Homo sapiens: one gene and its partner. The protein of the gene in region 1 purifies or fractionates together with the protein of each later gene. This does not show direct contact. Each region holds a gene or a part of one and is shown in the gene's direction. Other genes may lie near its edges.

Evidence for each region.
Region 2: the proteins of GLB1L2 (region 1) and SPTB purify together in Homo sapiens (affinity purification with mass spectrometry; 2 studies listed by BioGRID and IntAct, with this or other methods). This does not show direct contact.

The regions. Positions count from the first base shown.
Region 1 is NC_000011.10:134,369,314-134,377,350, forward strand, and holds the end of GLB1L2 (beta-galactosidase-1-like protein 2 isoform b precursor), read left to right. Parts: intron 1-491; coding exon 492-572; intron 573-979; coding exon 980-1,086; intron 1,087-1,694; coding exon 1,695-1,835; intron 1,836-2,107; coding exon 2,108-2,179; intron 2,180-2,438; coding exon 2,439-2,517; intron 2,518-4,407; coding exon 4,408-4,495; intron 4,496-4,831; coding exon 4,832-4,943; intron 4,944-5,288; coding exon 5,289-5,405; intron 5,406-5,658; coding exon 5,659-5,745; 3' UTR 5,746-7,011; downstream 7,012-8,037.
Region 2 is NC_000014.9:64,869,908-64,877,507, reverse strand, and holds part of SPTB (spectrin beta chain, erythrocytic), read left to right. Parts: intron 1-4,829; exon of another isoform or gene 4,830-5,186; intron 5,187-7,600.

The DNA.
Region 1 (8,037 bases):
TCCTGAGTAGCTGGGACTACAGGTGTGCACCCCCACCTCTGGCTAATTTTTAAAATTTTTTGTAGAGGTGGGGGTCTCGCTATGTTGCCCAGGCTGGTCTGGAACTCCTGGCCTCGAGCGATCCTCCTGCCTTGGCCTCCCAAAGTGCTGGGATTACAGGTGCGAGCTGCTGCACAAGCGATCCTCTTGCCTTGGCCTCCCAAAGTGCTGGGATTACAGGTGTGAGCCACTGCACAAGCGATCCTCCTGCCTTGGCCTCCCAAAGTGCTGGGATTGCAGGTGTGAGCCGCTGCACCTGGCCTTATGGACGCTTGTTGTAGTTGCCTGGTCTTTCATGTTTACAGTATTTTGACTGAATGGCTCAAAAGTGTCTTGCCTCCCCAATGGCTGAGATGAAGACCTGTGGCCCTTCCAAGCTTCTCCCTGTTCTTCGTGCTACATGTGCTGTGCTGGGGACAGGAATGACCATGACAGGGCCCGGTGTCTTGCAGACTATGATGCTGTGCTGACAGAAGCCGGCGATTACACGGCCAAGTACATGAAGCTTCGAGACTTCTTCGGCTCCATCTCAGGTACCCAGCAGACAGCAGACTCAAGTTCCAACTCAGGCCCTCGCTTCTGCTCTCAGACCCCTAAAGAGTTACTTCCTTACTGTCCCACCTCGACCCCAGTTGATCTGCGTGCAAGAATATCCTAGACAAGGACAGGGAGGTGTGTGAGGCTGTTTCCATCTTGCCGGCTTCACCTGTTACAGGTGTTAACGCTCCTTATCTCCTGTGGAGGACGGGAGAACGCCCTGGCTTTCCCCCAGGCCTGGCCTTCCTCCCTGGCCTCAGCAGGTGCTGAGAGCTAGCCTGTTGTTCCTCTTGGTGCTGGGACGCAGGAGCACATCGGGTCTGTGGATGGGAGCCGGGTGGGGAGGACGAGCAGGCAGTGACATTTGGGTCCGTTGGGGGTGACCCTGTTTTCTGTGTTGCAGGCATCCCTCTCCCTCCCCCACCTGACCTTCTTCCCAAGATGCCGTATGAGCCCTTAACGCCAGTCTTGTACCTGTCTCTGTGGGACGCCCTCAAGTACCTGGGGGAGGTGAGTGCTGTGGGCAGTCATCGGGAGGTGAGTGAGTGCCGGGGGCAGTCGTTGGCAGGGAGGTGAGTGCTGGGGGCAGTCGTCGGCGGGAGGTGAGAGTCGTCGGGGCAGCAGGGCCTGGAGCCCCTCCAGACAGGGAGTGTGGGGGGAGGCAGGCCAGTGCCTGGTGGCTCTGGGGTCTGCTCTCCGGCCTTGGAGCTCAGAGGGAAGAGGACAGACTCATGCTGGAGTGTGAAGTGGGAGAAACAGAGGTCCCTGAGGAACAGCGGCTGGCCCCGTGGGCCTTTCCTTCCTCCAGCCTCAGAGAGGAGAGTGAGGGGCAGAGGAACAGGCCGTCCCCTCCCCAAGAAGGGGGTGCCTCCTCCGGCGGACTGAGGCTGTGATGTGTGTCCCCTGCCTGCGGACTGCACTCTGCTGGTGCACACCCCTTTGCCCCACTCCTCTTCCCCGTCACCCTGGAGAGTTGTATGTTTAGTGCAATGAGAAGTCAAAGTAGAAAACACCCACCAAACCTCCGCTTCCACCCCATGTGCCAGCCCCCAGGCAGAGTCTGTCTGTGACCCCACTCCTCCTGAGCCTGCCCACCCCTCCATCTCTTCTGTACGCAGCCAATCAAGTCTGAAAAGCCCATCAACATGGAGAACCTGCCAGTCAATGGGGGAAATGGACAGTCCTTCGGGTACATTCTCTATGAGACCAGCATCACCTCGTCTGGCATCCTCAGTGGCCACGTGCATGATCGGGGGCAGGTAGGAGCTTCTCTTCTAAATTCCTGTGACCTTCTGGTGAGCAGCTCTGCAATAGGCGTCTCATGCCCTCCCCTCAGAATCAGCTCTTACCAGTGTGTGACAATGGCCCTTCTGAGTCAGCTCTGTGAGCCTTCAGGGGGCATTCATGTCTGCTCTGCCCACTGGCCCCTCGTCTGCCTACAGGCACGCGTGCTGCCCTTCTTGGCCTGGAGGAGGTCCCGCTTACCCTCCTCCTGTTGGTCATGGATGTTCCTGCCTGTTCCCTTTGGCAGGTGTTTGTGAACACAGTATCCATAGGATTCTTGGACTACAAGACAACGAAGATTGCTGTCCCCCTGATCCAGGTTCGTTGTTTTTGGGAGCTGGGTGATGGCTAGCCCCCGCTGCTTCGAGGAAGTCTGGGGGCAGTCACTGAGGAAAACCTGGGAGACCCGTGGCTCCTTACCCACAAGCTGTAGGTGGAGAGGGCGAGTGTGGCTTTCTGCCCAGCTGGGATGTACACTCCCATCCCCAGAGCGTAGGGAAGAACTGGGGTCCACAAGCAAATTCTGAGGGGCAGCTGTGGCCTTCTGACAGTCATCGTTAGCCCCGTGTTCCCGGCAGGGTTACACCGTGCTGAGGATCTTGGTGGAGAATCGTGGGCGAGTCAACTATGGGGAGAATATTGATGACCAGCGCAAAGGTGGGTCCCAGAATGTGTCAAAAGAAGAGTGGCCATGCTGGACACACAGGTGGCTATTGCTTCTCTATGCTAGCAGGCCACCAGGCCATGGAGGCCTCTTGCAGGGAGGTGGAGGCTGGGTTGTCCCATACATGAGGCCAGTTCTGAGTGGGCCAGAGAAACTCCGCTGGGCTGTGGCCCCTGTCCTGTTAGCACTGCACGCGTGCATCGTCTGCGTGCTCGTGATAAACACTGTGAACACTGAGCTGGCCTCTTGTCTCCCCTGGGCTGCAGTCGGTTTCTGCAAGGATGTCTGCTTGGGGGGGCGGCAGTGAGGAGCAATGAATGTGATTTCCAGGAATCCAAGGAAAGGCACAAGACCCCTGCCTTCTTGGGCCTCCACACTGAAGTTCTCTTCTTGATCCATCTTGGGAAAGCTTATCTCAGATGTTGGGGGAGGAGGATGCGGGACATACAGCAAACAAAACACCTGTTGGTAGCGTACCCCTCTGGGAATAGGCCGCCAATTTGCTTTATGTTTCCTGGCCTACTAAATCTTTTATGCTTTAATTTAGCCCTTCCTTTTTTTTTTTGAGACGGAGTCTCGCTCTTTCACCCAGGCCAGACTGCAGTGGTGCAATCTCGGCTCACTGCATGCTCCACCTCCCGGGTTCATGCCATTCTCCTGCCTCAGCCTCCCGAGTAGCTGGGACTACAGGCGCCCGCCACCGTGCCCAAATTTAGCCCTTCCTTTTTAAAAAAAATCTAGCTAAATGTGGGTGGTTTCAGGTAAGTTATAAAAAAAGAACTCAGAACAAAATGAATGCGACTGTGGTGAGCAGCACCGGTGACCTCCCAGCTCTCTCACGGTGTCTGCGTTTGTGACGGAGGAAACTTGAAGAGCTCTTATTGGTCCACATTTCCTCCGAGAGCCGTCTGGTGGCCTGCCAGGAAAGCCACGTGGCCCAGACACTGGGGCCTGGATCCTGGGGATCAGGGCCCTTCTAGATGGGCCTCAGAGCGGCATCTAGCACCACCCAGGCCCACACTCCTTTACCCTAGACAGCTCCCTCTCTGGGCCTGTCCTCACTTCTGTTGTTCTCCTGGGAGTTGGAAGGAGCACCAGCCTGACCATTGTTCCTAACTTTGCTTCCCTGAGCCCTTGTTGAGGGTCCCCTGGGCCCACACTGTGGAGTCCTGTCCTCTGGATCACAGTTCAATGTTTATAAGTCACAGACCTCCCTTGAGAAATGCGCGTGCCCACATAGACCCGCACCTGCCATTTCGGAGTCTGTAGGCCCTGCAAAGCCTCTCCACAGTCCTCGGCCTCCAAATTCCCAAGCTAGCCACTCAGCAGCTCTGTAATCTGAGACTGGCAGGGCTGGCCCGGCCCCGGGACACTGATGAGTGGCTCCTCAAGAGGACACATCTCTTCCCTGTTGGATGCCCGAGGGAGGGTGCCATCTGCTCACAGTCCAAACACTCCTAATGCACAGCTTTAATCCTAGGTGGCAGAGATGATTCTGGCTGAGTTATTAGGTCTGTGTAGCTTGGGCCCCACTGAAACTGGCCCTGCAGCTAGGCCAGAACCCTCTCGGTCATCTGGAACTTCCTTCAGAGAGAGGCCAGAGGTTGTTCTCGCCCTGTAACACCTCAGCTCTATATCCTTCCCATGGCAAATCTTAGGGTCTTCCTCCTTCCCGTCCCCCACAGAATTGCTAGGGAGCTTTGCTTGCAAGCGAACGGCTTCCCAGGGAGCGTACACTTCAGTACCCCTCACCCCAGCTTCTCAGGGAGCGTACACTTCAGCACCCCTCACCCCAGCTTCCCAGGGCTTCCCCTCGTGGCCCCGGCCCAGCTGACTCGGCCCCTGCCTTTGGGCTACCCACGTGTCCTGCCTCCCTCCCACAGGCTTAATTGGAAATCTCTATCTGAATGATTCACCCCTGAAAAACTTCAGAATCTATAGCCTGGATATGAAGAAGAGCTTCTTTCAGAGGTGGGTCCCTGCCCAGCACCAGCCCTTGCACTCACAGGTATAGTGCTGTGTGGTGGGGCCCAGGGGTCCCTGGTGCACCGTGGCCTGGCCCGCACCCAGGTGTGAACGCCTCCAGGGGCCAGATCGGCTGGCCGAGGTGAGGGGTGGCACCCGCACTAGAAGCCGCATTTGCAGACTAGGAATTCCCAGCATCCTACCGTGCTGCCATTCTGTGTCCTGGTTAAGAGGCGGGGGGCCTTGGATGGGGAAACGGTGTCAGGGCCTTTTATTTTGCTTTATTGTGCTGGTGGATTGAGAAGGGCCTCCTCCCTCTCCTTCTCTGTGTTCTGTCCTTAGGTTCGGCCTGGACAAATGGAGTTCCCTCCCAGAAACACCCACATTACCTGCTTTCTTCTTGGGTAGCTTGTCCATCAGCTCCACCCCTTGTGACACCTTTCTGAAGCTGGAGGTTGGTAACGCCCTTTTCCCTGCCAGTTTCTCCCACCTGCCTCCCGCCTTGGAGGGCTCTGAGCCAAAGCCACGAGCTTGGCGAGAGTCGTTGGTGGCTTCTGTGCCCAGAGGGTCTGAGAGGGCCGCTGGGGCCTCCCTGGGCCAGAGGAGTGGGTTCCCAGCAGAAGAAACACCTCATGCACTAGGGGGACAGGAAATAGAGCATCCCACCTGCCCACCCTCATGGCTGTCCAGACACAGCTCGCTTTGGTCTCCTGGACCTGAGAGAAGCACGCATGCATGTCTCCCTCCACTTTTGCTGTGGCTCTCGTGGTAGATGAACACCCTTCCCCTCTGTTTCAAGGGCTGGGAGAAGGGGGTTGTATTCATCAATGGCCAGAACCTTGGACGTTACTGGAACATTGGACCCCAGAAGACGCTTTACCTCCCAGGTCCCTGGTTGAGCAGCGGAATCAACCAGGTGGGAGCTTCCAGCCCCTTCCTGTTCCCCATGACGCCCTGCCCACCTGCCGTCCCAGGGAGCCTTCGGTCAGGGTGGAGGGGCGTGTCAGCGGGTTCTTCCTCCCTCCTCCTCGCTGCAGACGAGTTGTTGGTCCCTGTCCCTTCCAGCCTGGTTCCCAAACCCTTTCCTTCTGACCCTGCCACCTCTCAGCACCTCCCCTGGCTCCAGGACAGACGTCAGCTGCCCTCCCAGCCGGGCCCTCTCTCCACAGGTCATCGTTTTTGAGGAGACGATGGCGGGCCCTGCATTACAGTTCACGGAAACCCCCCACCTGGGCAGGAACCAGTACATTAAGTGAGCGGTGGCACCCCCTCCTGCTGGTGCCAGTGGGAGACTGCCGCCTCCTCTTGACCTGAAGCCTGGTGGCTGCTGCCCCACCCCTCACTGCAAAAGCATCTCCTTAAGTAGCAACCTCAGGGACTGGGGGCTACAGTCTGCCCCTGTCTCAGCTCAAAACCCTAAGCCTGCAGGGAAAGGTGGGATGGCTCTGGGCCTGGCTTTGTTGATGATGGCTTTCCTACAGCCCTGCTCTTGTGCCGAGGCTGTCGGGCTGTCTCTAGGGTGGGAGCAGCTAATCAGATCGCCCAGCCTTTGGCCCTCAGAAAAAGTGCTGAAACGTGCCCTTGCACTGGACGTCACAGCCCTGCGAGCATCTGCTGGACTCAGGCGTGCTCTTTGCTGGTTCCTGGGAGGCTTGGCCACATCCCTCATGGCCCCATTTTATCCCCGAAATCCTGGGTGTGTCACCAGTGTAGAGGGTGGGGAAGGGGTGTCTCACCTGAGCTGACTTTGTTCTTCCTTCACAACCTTCTGAGCCTTCTTTGGGATTCTGGAAGGAACTCGGCGTGAGAAACATGTGACTTCCCCTTTCCCTTCCCACTCGCTGCTTCCCACAGGGTGACAGGCTGGGCTGGAGAAACAGAAATCCTCACCCTGCGTCTTCCCAAGTTAGCAGGTGTCTCTGGTGTTCAGTGAGGAGGACATGTGAGTCCTGGCAGAAGCCATGGCCCATGTCTGCACATCCAGGGAGGAGGACAGAAGGCCCAGCTCACATGTGAGTCCTGGCAGAAGCCATGGCCCATGTCTGCACATCCAGGGAGGAGGACAGAAGGCCCAGCTCACATGTGAGTCCTGGCAGAAGCCATGGCCCATGTCTGCACATCCAGGGAGGAGGACAGAAGGCCCAGCTCACATGTGAGTCCTGGCAGAAGCCATGGCCCATGTCTGCACATCCAGGGAGGAGGACAGAAGGCCCAGCTCACATGTGAGTCCTGGCAGAAGCCATGGCCCATGTCTGCACATCCAGGGAGGAGGACAGAAGGCCCAGCTCACATGTGAGTCCTGGCAGAAGCCATGGCCCATGTCTGCACATCCAGGGAGGAGGACAGAAGGCCCAGCTCAGTGGCCCCCGCCCCCCACCCCCCACGCCCGAACAGCAGGGGCAGAGCAGCCCTCCTTCGAAGTGTGTCCAAGTCCGCATTTGAGCCTTGTTCTGGGGCCCAGCCCAACACCTGGCTTGGGCTCACTGTCCTGAGTTGCAGTAAAGCTATAACCTTGAATCACACCCCCTCTGGTGATAGTCTCTGGTCATGTGTGCCACTCTTGCCAGAAGGGAAGGCTGTCTGAGAGCTTGGTTTTCTTGGTCAGGTTCCCATTGGGCCCCACTTGCCGCCTGGGGGTCCAGATGGGGACCGTCCCTGGGGTGGGTGGGCCATGATCCTGGCCTCATATTCCCCTCCTGACCCCGACTTCCCTTCAAATGTCTCTGGATTGGAAGTGCCCTGGAGAGGACAGTTCAAATGCAAATTCATTCTCATGCTGGTGGGCGGGGGTAAGAATCTGCCAGGCAGTCAAGGGCGCTCCATATGAGTTAACTGCGGGGTTGAGTTTTGCTTCACAAACTACATCTGGCATCTACTGCCAAAACCAAATTATCTCCAGTAAGAGTCAGAAAGTCAAGTAGCACACACATCCCCGGCACAGCGAGAGCTCTGGGAGCCCCGTGAAGGTGGGCTGGGGGATGGTGAGCCGTGGAGCTCACTGAGGCCAGCAGGCTTGCTGCCCGTGTGTGGCTGCCCAGGGGGAGTGCAGGGGACATTCGTGGTGTGCAGCCCAGCAGCTGAGCCGGGTCAAGGGCTTATTAAATGGAGCTTATTAAAGGAAAGCTTGTGGACAGTGGCTTGGGAACAACATGGGGCAGAGTCCCTGGTTTTGCCCAAACTCACCAGTTCTTCTGGAACTGCCTCGGAACGACAAGCATGGGGCTAAGATGTGGATGAGACTCGGGCTACTTGGGTGTGGCCTGAGCCACCTGCAGGGTCTTCTGCCCCGCTTTACCTGAGTGTGTGCTTCTGCAGAGCTGTGTATGAGCTGGTTCCGTCAGAAAGTGATGGAATGGAAGGGAACCTTCCTGCAAATCCTCCTGTAAGGTGGAGAAGCCCCTTGGATCACACTTCCACGCAGACCTGAGCAGGACACACTGTGGTTTCCTAAGGTGAGGTCTTCCTACACCAGCTTCTTATTCTCACCCTTATTTTCTGCCAGTTAATTGCTCAGCTTCTCTATCAAAGTACCTCTTGGCAGAGCTTAT
Region 2 (7,600 bases), on another chromosome or scaffold:
CAGGAAGATTAAATAACTTGCCTCATATTACCCAGCTAATGAGAGATGGGTCCAGGATTCAAACTCAGTTTGTTTGGTTCTACCTTCTTTTTAAGGTTAGACACTCAGCAGGGAATATAAAGTACAAGTTGGGAAGATTTGACTGTTTGTCTTCTAGCTTCATAATCTTCATTCCCAGGACCTCAGGTAATAGTTCTGCTTATATCAGAGGAGCTTAAAAAATATTATCTGAAGATAATATTGGGCATTTATTTGCTCAGAGGTTCTTAGCCTTACCCATTATTTTCAGGTCATTGTTTCAAGGACAGAACTATAATTTTGGCAGGAGTCAAAGCATGGATTTTTTTTTTTTTTTTTAAAGAACAGATTTTCCTTTCAGTCCTGGAAGTGGCCAGGAGGGCTTGATGATACATAGGGACAGTGTGATAGGACAGAGGATGGCTATAAAAAATTCATGAGGCAAACACTATTGGAGAGGGAAGGGATTCTGGAGGTCACTGAACCCAGCCTTCCATGTGCATACTTACTGGCTTAAAGGCAAGACCTAACTGAATGTACCTGATCATTGATGTGTAGCTATGGCACCCACACTTCTTATTACTCGAGTTCATTTCTTTCCTGTCTCACTCTCAAGGCCAATATGGTTTACTTCCTGAAGTTCTGCCTAACCAAACTACTGAGATTTTATTTCCTTTGGAGGAGATTATGAGAGGATGTGTTTTTAATATCTAGTCCTTTCATTTTAGTGCAATCTTAAAGAAAAGGTACTGAGGATAAGCAGGAGAGAAGGCAGTCTCAGGCTTTAAACTCTAAACTGTTCTATAATCTCCCCCATTGCTTGTAAGGTGTACACATGTATACATTTTAAAACAATAGTTATACACATTACGATCTAGAGACAAGAAATCTTAAGTAATTATGTCCATTTTTGGGGGGCATGGGGAAGGACTTTAGAGAACTGTTGAGACCGTCAGATACGTGTTTTAACCTAAACCCAATCACCAAATTGTTCTTGAAGAGCAGCACTTTAATTTCAAAATCAAACACAAAATTTTACTGTCTGCTCAAGACCTGAAAAGGTAGGAAACATGACCAGTGGGAGATTTAAAGTAGAGATGGGGTTTCACCATGCTGGTCAGGCTGGTCTCAGGAGTTCGAGACCAGCCTGGCCAAACCTATCTCTACTAAAAATACAAAAATTAGCCAGGTGTGGTGGTGGGCACCTGTAATCCCAGCTACTCGGGAGGCTGAGACAGGAAAATTGCTCGAACCTGGGCGGTAGAGGTTGCAGTGAACCGACATCGCGCCACTGCACTCCAGCCTGGACAATAAAGTGAGATTGTGTCTCAAACAAACAAACAAAAAATTGATATAAAAAAGCCAGGTATAGTGGCTTATGCCTATAATCCCAGTTACTTCGGAGGCTAAGGGAGGAGGATTGCTTGAGCCAGGGAGTTAGAGAGGCTGAACTATGATTGTGCCACTGTACTCCAGCCTGGACAACAGAATGAGGTGCCATCTCTAATTCATGAATTAATTAAAAAGTGATTTAAAATATGTTTCTTTGTTATGGAATTTTAAAATTATAGAATTTAAAAAAATAACCTGAGACCTACAGATTAACATTTATCAATGAACTTGGGAAGATCAAGAGTGAAAATAACTGTGCTATGTGGGCTGATGAGAAATTTGATTATATAATGAGGACTGGCAAGGAAGTTCATGGATACTGGGTTCTGAAACCATATGGATATCACAAGCCAAAAATGACTGTGGAAAGAAGAATTTTATCTTTGAAGCAGCTTGTATTGACTCAGTTGATTTTAACAGACAGATCGTAGGTTACTCCTCTGTTTTAGATAAGAAATCTGAGGAAGAAGAGTAGATGCAGTGGTCTGTGTGCCAGAATCATCATGTGGCATTTGCTGGGTTTATCACAGAGATGCTTCCTTCTTCACCCCATTAGGGGAAGGTCACCTGTTTTGGAGATGGAGATAGTGATTGAGGAAGAGCGTAGGAGGCAGTCAGGAGAATTAACTGTCAGATCTGGCTCTGCTCACGGATTGCCAACTCCCCTTGGTAAATATTTAGAAAATGCCATAGTGTGTTTCCCTCTGTTGCTGCGTGTATTTCTTAATTCACAGCCAAGTGATCCACATTCTTCCATTTTCAGCCAGCCTCAGCTGAATATCAAACCATCAGGGGATCCCTAGCCTTTATAGCTCACGTAGTCTTAGAGGTGGTCATAGACAGAAAATGCTTCCTTAATGAATTGTCTGGCTAGCTTATCAAATTCCCAGACCACCTTTCATTTTTCTCTTTCCTTTTCCTGGTTGCAGGAAATATTACAAAGCCCTCTTCTTCCTACCTCAGCAAGCCCTTCTCAGGCTTTGCCATAATGTTTTATTTCCACATCATACCTGTGCAGACCTGGCTGAGGGTAGAATTACAAGGGCAATTAAAACTCAGCATATATCATGTGAGCAGTGGGGGCAAAAGTGGGCTTCCTTTCTTTCATTTGAATGTTATAAATTTAGCAAGTGAAAAGGCACAGGGCTGAAAAAAAAATAGGCTTTGCATTGAACCAGGCTCAGATCATCCAGGATATTTATGAAGAGACTAACGGCACCTTGATAGCTAAAGAACAATAATTGCTTCGAATTATAGTCAATTTAGGAGTTTCCACCATTGTGAAAAGGAGAAGAAACTTGAATAATTCCGAAAATGAATACTTTGAAAATATTTTCCATTTGTACCAGACTTAAATATGGGCGTGTCTCACTTGAGAATGTATAGCAATTCAAATAAAACAAAGCATACTTTAAAGGCATAAATTATGTGGACCAGAAAGAAGTCTGTAACCTTATTCTGTCCCTCTTTTGAGTCCCAGCCTGTTTCTAGAAGAACCCTAGGAGTGGTCAATTAGCTTCATCTTCCAGTATATTTCCAGAAGGGTGGAAAAGCAAGAAAAGGCCTTTCATAATACTGACTTCGAGTCATAAGTCATAGAGAGTTAGAGGTAGAAAGGCCCGAGAGAGAATTGAGGTGTATTCAAAAAGAGCAGACATTGGGTGTCTACCACGTGTCTTACACTGTTATGTGCTGAAGACACACAAAGAGATCAGATGGAGAATCACTGATCTGGTGCGAAAATGGCCTTGCAAACAAGCAGTGATTCAACAGGATGCCTGAGAGAGAGGGTGTACAGGAGGAAACATCTCATTCAGGTTGGGGAATGAGAAGACCTTTGAAAGTGCCTAGGATTTCTATAATGGAAGAAGGGAGGATGAGGGGGCCTGCGAGTGGGGCTTTAGGAAATTGCCCAGCACAGACAATAAAGCATGATTAGGTTAGGGGATGAAGTGTAGTTCCACATGGCAGAAGTGTGACCAGAAAGGTGGTTGGGGTTCAGCCTGTGAAGAAGTTTGAGCCACTGGAAGTTTTTAAGTCATAAAGGGGTGTGATGAAATCTTTGTTGACAAAGCTCACCAGTGGCAGTGAAGAGAAAGTGAATTAGATCCCAGCCAGTACAAGATGATGATCACAGATAACTATAGTCCACTCAATTTTCAGCATGCCTTTGTCTACACATCATCTTATTTTATCTTATGATGAGCATGTGAAGGGAAGATCTGATTATTCCTGGTTTCCAGTTACAAAACAGGATTAGAAATGTACATTTATATACTCAATGTCCCTCTAGTAGTTTATTCCAAAACCTGACTTTGACCCAGTTGCCTAGTTCTGAGGCTGGGGCTGTTTCCAGGTCTTCTCAGTGGAGTAATTGAATATTCTGGGCCTTCTGGTTGAGACCGCGGTTGCTTTTTTTCTTCAGCAGAATATTCCACATAAGTTCATTGGTTCTGGAGAGAAGACACTTGTTAATGGTATTACCCTTTACCATAGCCACAGAACCTCAAGAATGGCCCTCCAGAGTATGCACAGATGCTGTTCCAAAGCATGAATTAATGGATTCTCAGTAGCATGCCATAGATAAATGAAGGGTTCATCTGCCCGTTAATTGATGTTTTGGGTTTTTCATTCCTTTACCCCAAATTTACTGGGCATTATTGTGCTTATGCTTCATTTTGGACTTCAGCAGCCTCTTTTTGTCCAGTGATCTTGAGGGCCTTGATTTGTATGTCAGTCTTCAACAAATATTTACTGAGTTCTCATTTAATTTGCCAGACATGCTGTAGGCCCAGGGAATGTAACAGTGAATGTGGCAAAAATGTCTGAAGTCGTAGAGTGCACATTGTAGTTGGGGGAGAGAGGAACTAAATGACAAGCAACAGACAAAAATATATATTGTAATTTCAAGTGCTAAAAAGAAAAATAAAGCAATATGAAGGGAAAGAAGGGTGGTTCTACTATTTCAGGTAGGGTGGTTGGGAAAACACTATCTGATGGGGCTTCATTTGGGCTGAGACTCAAATGAAGTGGGGAGAGAGGCATGGGATGTTTGGGAGAAGAGATTCAGGTTGAGTGGTAGTCTGTTCTCACACTCCTAATAAAGACATACCAGAGACTGAGTAATTTATAAAGGAAAGAGGTTTAATTGAATCACAGTTCAGCATGGCTGGGGATGACTCACAATCATGGCAGAAGGCAAAGGAGGAGCAAAGGCATGTCATACATGGTGGCAGGCGCATGTTCAGGGGAACTGCCCTTTATAAAACCATCAAATCTCATGAGACTTCTTCACTATCACGAGAACAGCACAGGAAAACCCACCCCCGTGATTCAGTTACCTCCCACCGGGTCCCTCCCACGACATGCAGGGATTATGGGAGCCGCAATTCAAGATGAGATTTGGGTGGGGACACAGACAAACCATACCAAATGGGAAGCCCCCAACGTGGGGCCACTGCTGTGTCCAAGCAATAGCAAAGAGGCCAGTGTGGCCTGAGTGCAGGGTGTCATGGGGAGAGCTAACCACAGTGCTGGAGAGAAAAGCGGGTCTTGATGGTGCAGGCTTTGTGACCTTTGAGTTTTAGTCCAAGTGTCATAGGAAGCCACTGGAAGTTGTGGGCAGGGGAGTGACTTGTTGGGATTTGTGTCTCAAGCAGATCTTTCTGGCGGCCCTAAGGAGGATTGATTGTGGGGCACAAGAGTGGAGGCAAGGAGTCCCATGAAAGCTACTGCGGTGGTTCAGGACGAGAGGATGGATCAGGATGATAGTCCTGGTGAGATGCAGTTGGGTTCTGAGTATAGAGATTATGAGATTTGGATATAGAGGATGAGAGAAAAAGAATAAGATGATTCCATTGTTTTTGGCCTGAACAACTGGATGAACAAAAAGGTCGTTTACTGAGATGGTGATGTATTTTATCAAATGTACCATGGGCTATTTTTTTTTAATTTCTGTTTTTGTCGAGGTGTTGACTTGGAATAGTCTTGGCAGACTTTTCATTTAAATACACCAAAAAGGAGATGTTTTTATTTTGGGATGATTCATGACATCTGTTTGAAGCGAAGCTTTAGATGTGCTGTGTACTTTGTACTGTTACTTTTAGATCAGTCCCACAACGTTTATACTATGTGATGGAGATTAAGATATGGGAGAAACAAGATTGAAATATATTTCACTTTATTTTTAGAAATGTTTTGAATTGGCTGGTTAAAGCCCAAATATTTTTTGATGCTTCCTGGTTGTCATATTTAAAAAACTTTTTAAATTATAAAATAAACTCATGTACGTGGTTAAAACATATATCCATATTATACAAGGGTATACAATGAAGAGTAAAAGTCTTCTCCTAACTTCAGCCCTATTTCTAAGAAGGTACCACTGTCAACAGTTTCTGTGTATGCTTTGAGAAGAATTCCATTCATGTGCAAGCATTTGGCCTGATACATTTTAAAGTCATAGCTTTAAGCTAGCAGCACCACGTGTTAGGTTTCAGATTTAGTAGACTTTGTAGTCACCTTGGTAGCCCTCAAGTTAAGCGACCTGGAGTCCACTTTCTATCAACTAAGGATCTCCCTCTCCAAACCATCCCACACTGAACCACTGTGTTCATCATATAACACCCCTTCTCAAAAGCCACCAGTGGTTCTTCTCTGGGTAGAGGTAGAAATCCAAACTCATAAAGTTGGCTTTTAAGGAGCCATTCTATTCTGGCACCAGTCTCTTTTTTTCTACTCTTTTACCACTTTCCATCACAAACCCTCTACTTAAACTAAGTTTGTCCACTTCTGCTTACTGAGTCCTGACCATTTCTCCCAGATTTGGAGTGTTTTCCATCAGAACTTGGGTTCGAGGCTGTGTCTTCGTCCTGGAACACTCCACTCCACAGTAATCTCTCCCTTCTTCAAACTTGCTAAATTAGGGCTAGATACATGCACCCTATTTGAACATAATCACAAATTCTTTTATTAACTTTCTTTGTATATGTGTATTATTTGCTCAAATATATGTGACATAAATTTTACCATTTTAACCATTTTTAAGTGTACATACAGTTCAGTGGCATAAGCACATTCACATTGCTGTGCAGCCATCACCATCATCCCTCCCCATCATCATGAAAAAGATGGACGTTTTTCATCTTCCAAAACACAAGCACTGTGTCCACTAAACACTAACTCTCCATTCCCTCTCCCTCCATCTGTCTATGGACACTTGGGTTGCTTCTACTCTTGCCTATTGTGAATAATGCTGCTGTGAACATGGGTGGGCAGATATCTCCTTGAGACCTTGCTTTCACTTCTTTTGGACATATACCTAGATGTGAAATTGCTGGATCACATAGTAATTCTATTTATAATCTTTTAAGGAACCCGTCCATGCAATTTTAATATTTCCCCTTGGTATTTAACATCTCCAAAGGGAAGGGCAAAAATTTATTATCCTCATTTTGGGGGCCAAACTGAACTTGAGAAGTGTTTGTTTCAGAACACTGTCTTTGGGTGATAGTTCGTCATCAAAGTTCTTGAATTTGTTCATTTATTAGTGTGCCTGTTTTTAGATTGTAGACTTTTAGAGGACAGGCAGGTGATGTTTAATTTGCTTTGTAGAGCATGTAGCCCAAGCTCAGGTGGGGAAGGGTGTAAATATTATGCGATGTTTTATTTCAGCTAAAAAATCTCCTTGAGCTGGATGACAAGAGTCTGGGTTGCTTCCAGCTCCTTTCCTCTTGCTGTTTGCCCTTGGGTGAAGAACTTCCTCTTTCTCTGACTTTTTTTTTTTCAGGGCTTTTTGTGTGTGTGATTGTGATGGTGCCTTAACATTTATTATTATCCTTAAAATTTTCCTTGTGGATTCCTCTGTAAAACTTACATGTTGCCTTCTCTTTGTAACCTTGCCTGACAGCCCCTCTTCCTTACCAGGTCCTGGGGTAGCGCTGATTGCTTCCTCCTTTGTATTTTTACAGTACCCTTTTCACTCCTTTCTTACAGGTGGATCATCTTGTTTTGTAATTGTCAACTTGCCTTCTACACTGTTAGTTCAAGCTTCTTGCAATGGGGAACTGAGTCTCATGCTTAAAAACAAAACAAAACAAAACCTCTGCACCTAGAGCCATGTTTTATACATGGAGGGGAGTGGCTCAGAAATATTTGTTGATTAAAAAATTAGGCTGGAAACATCAGCTCATGC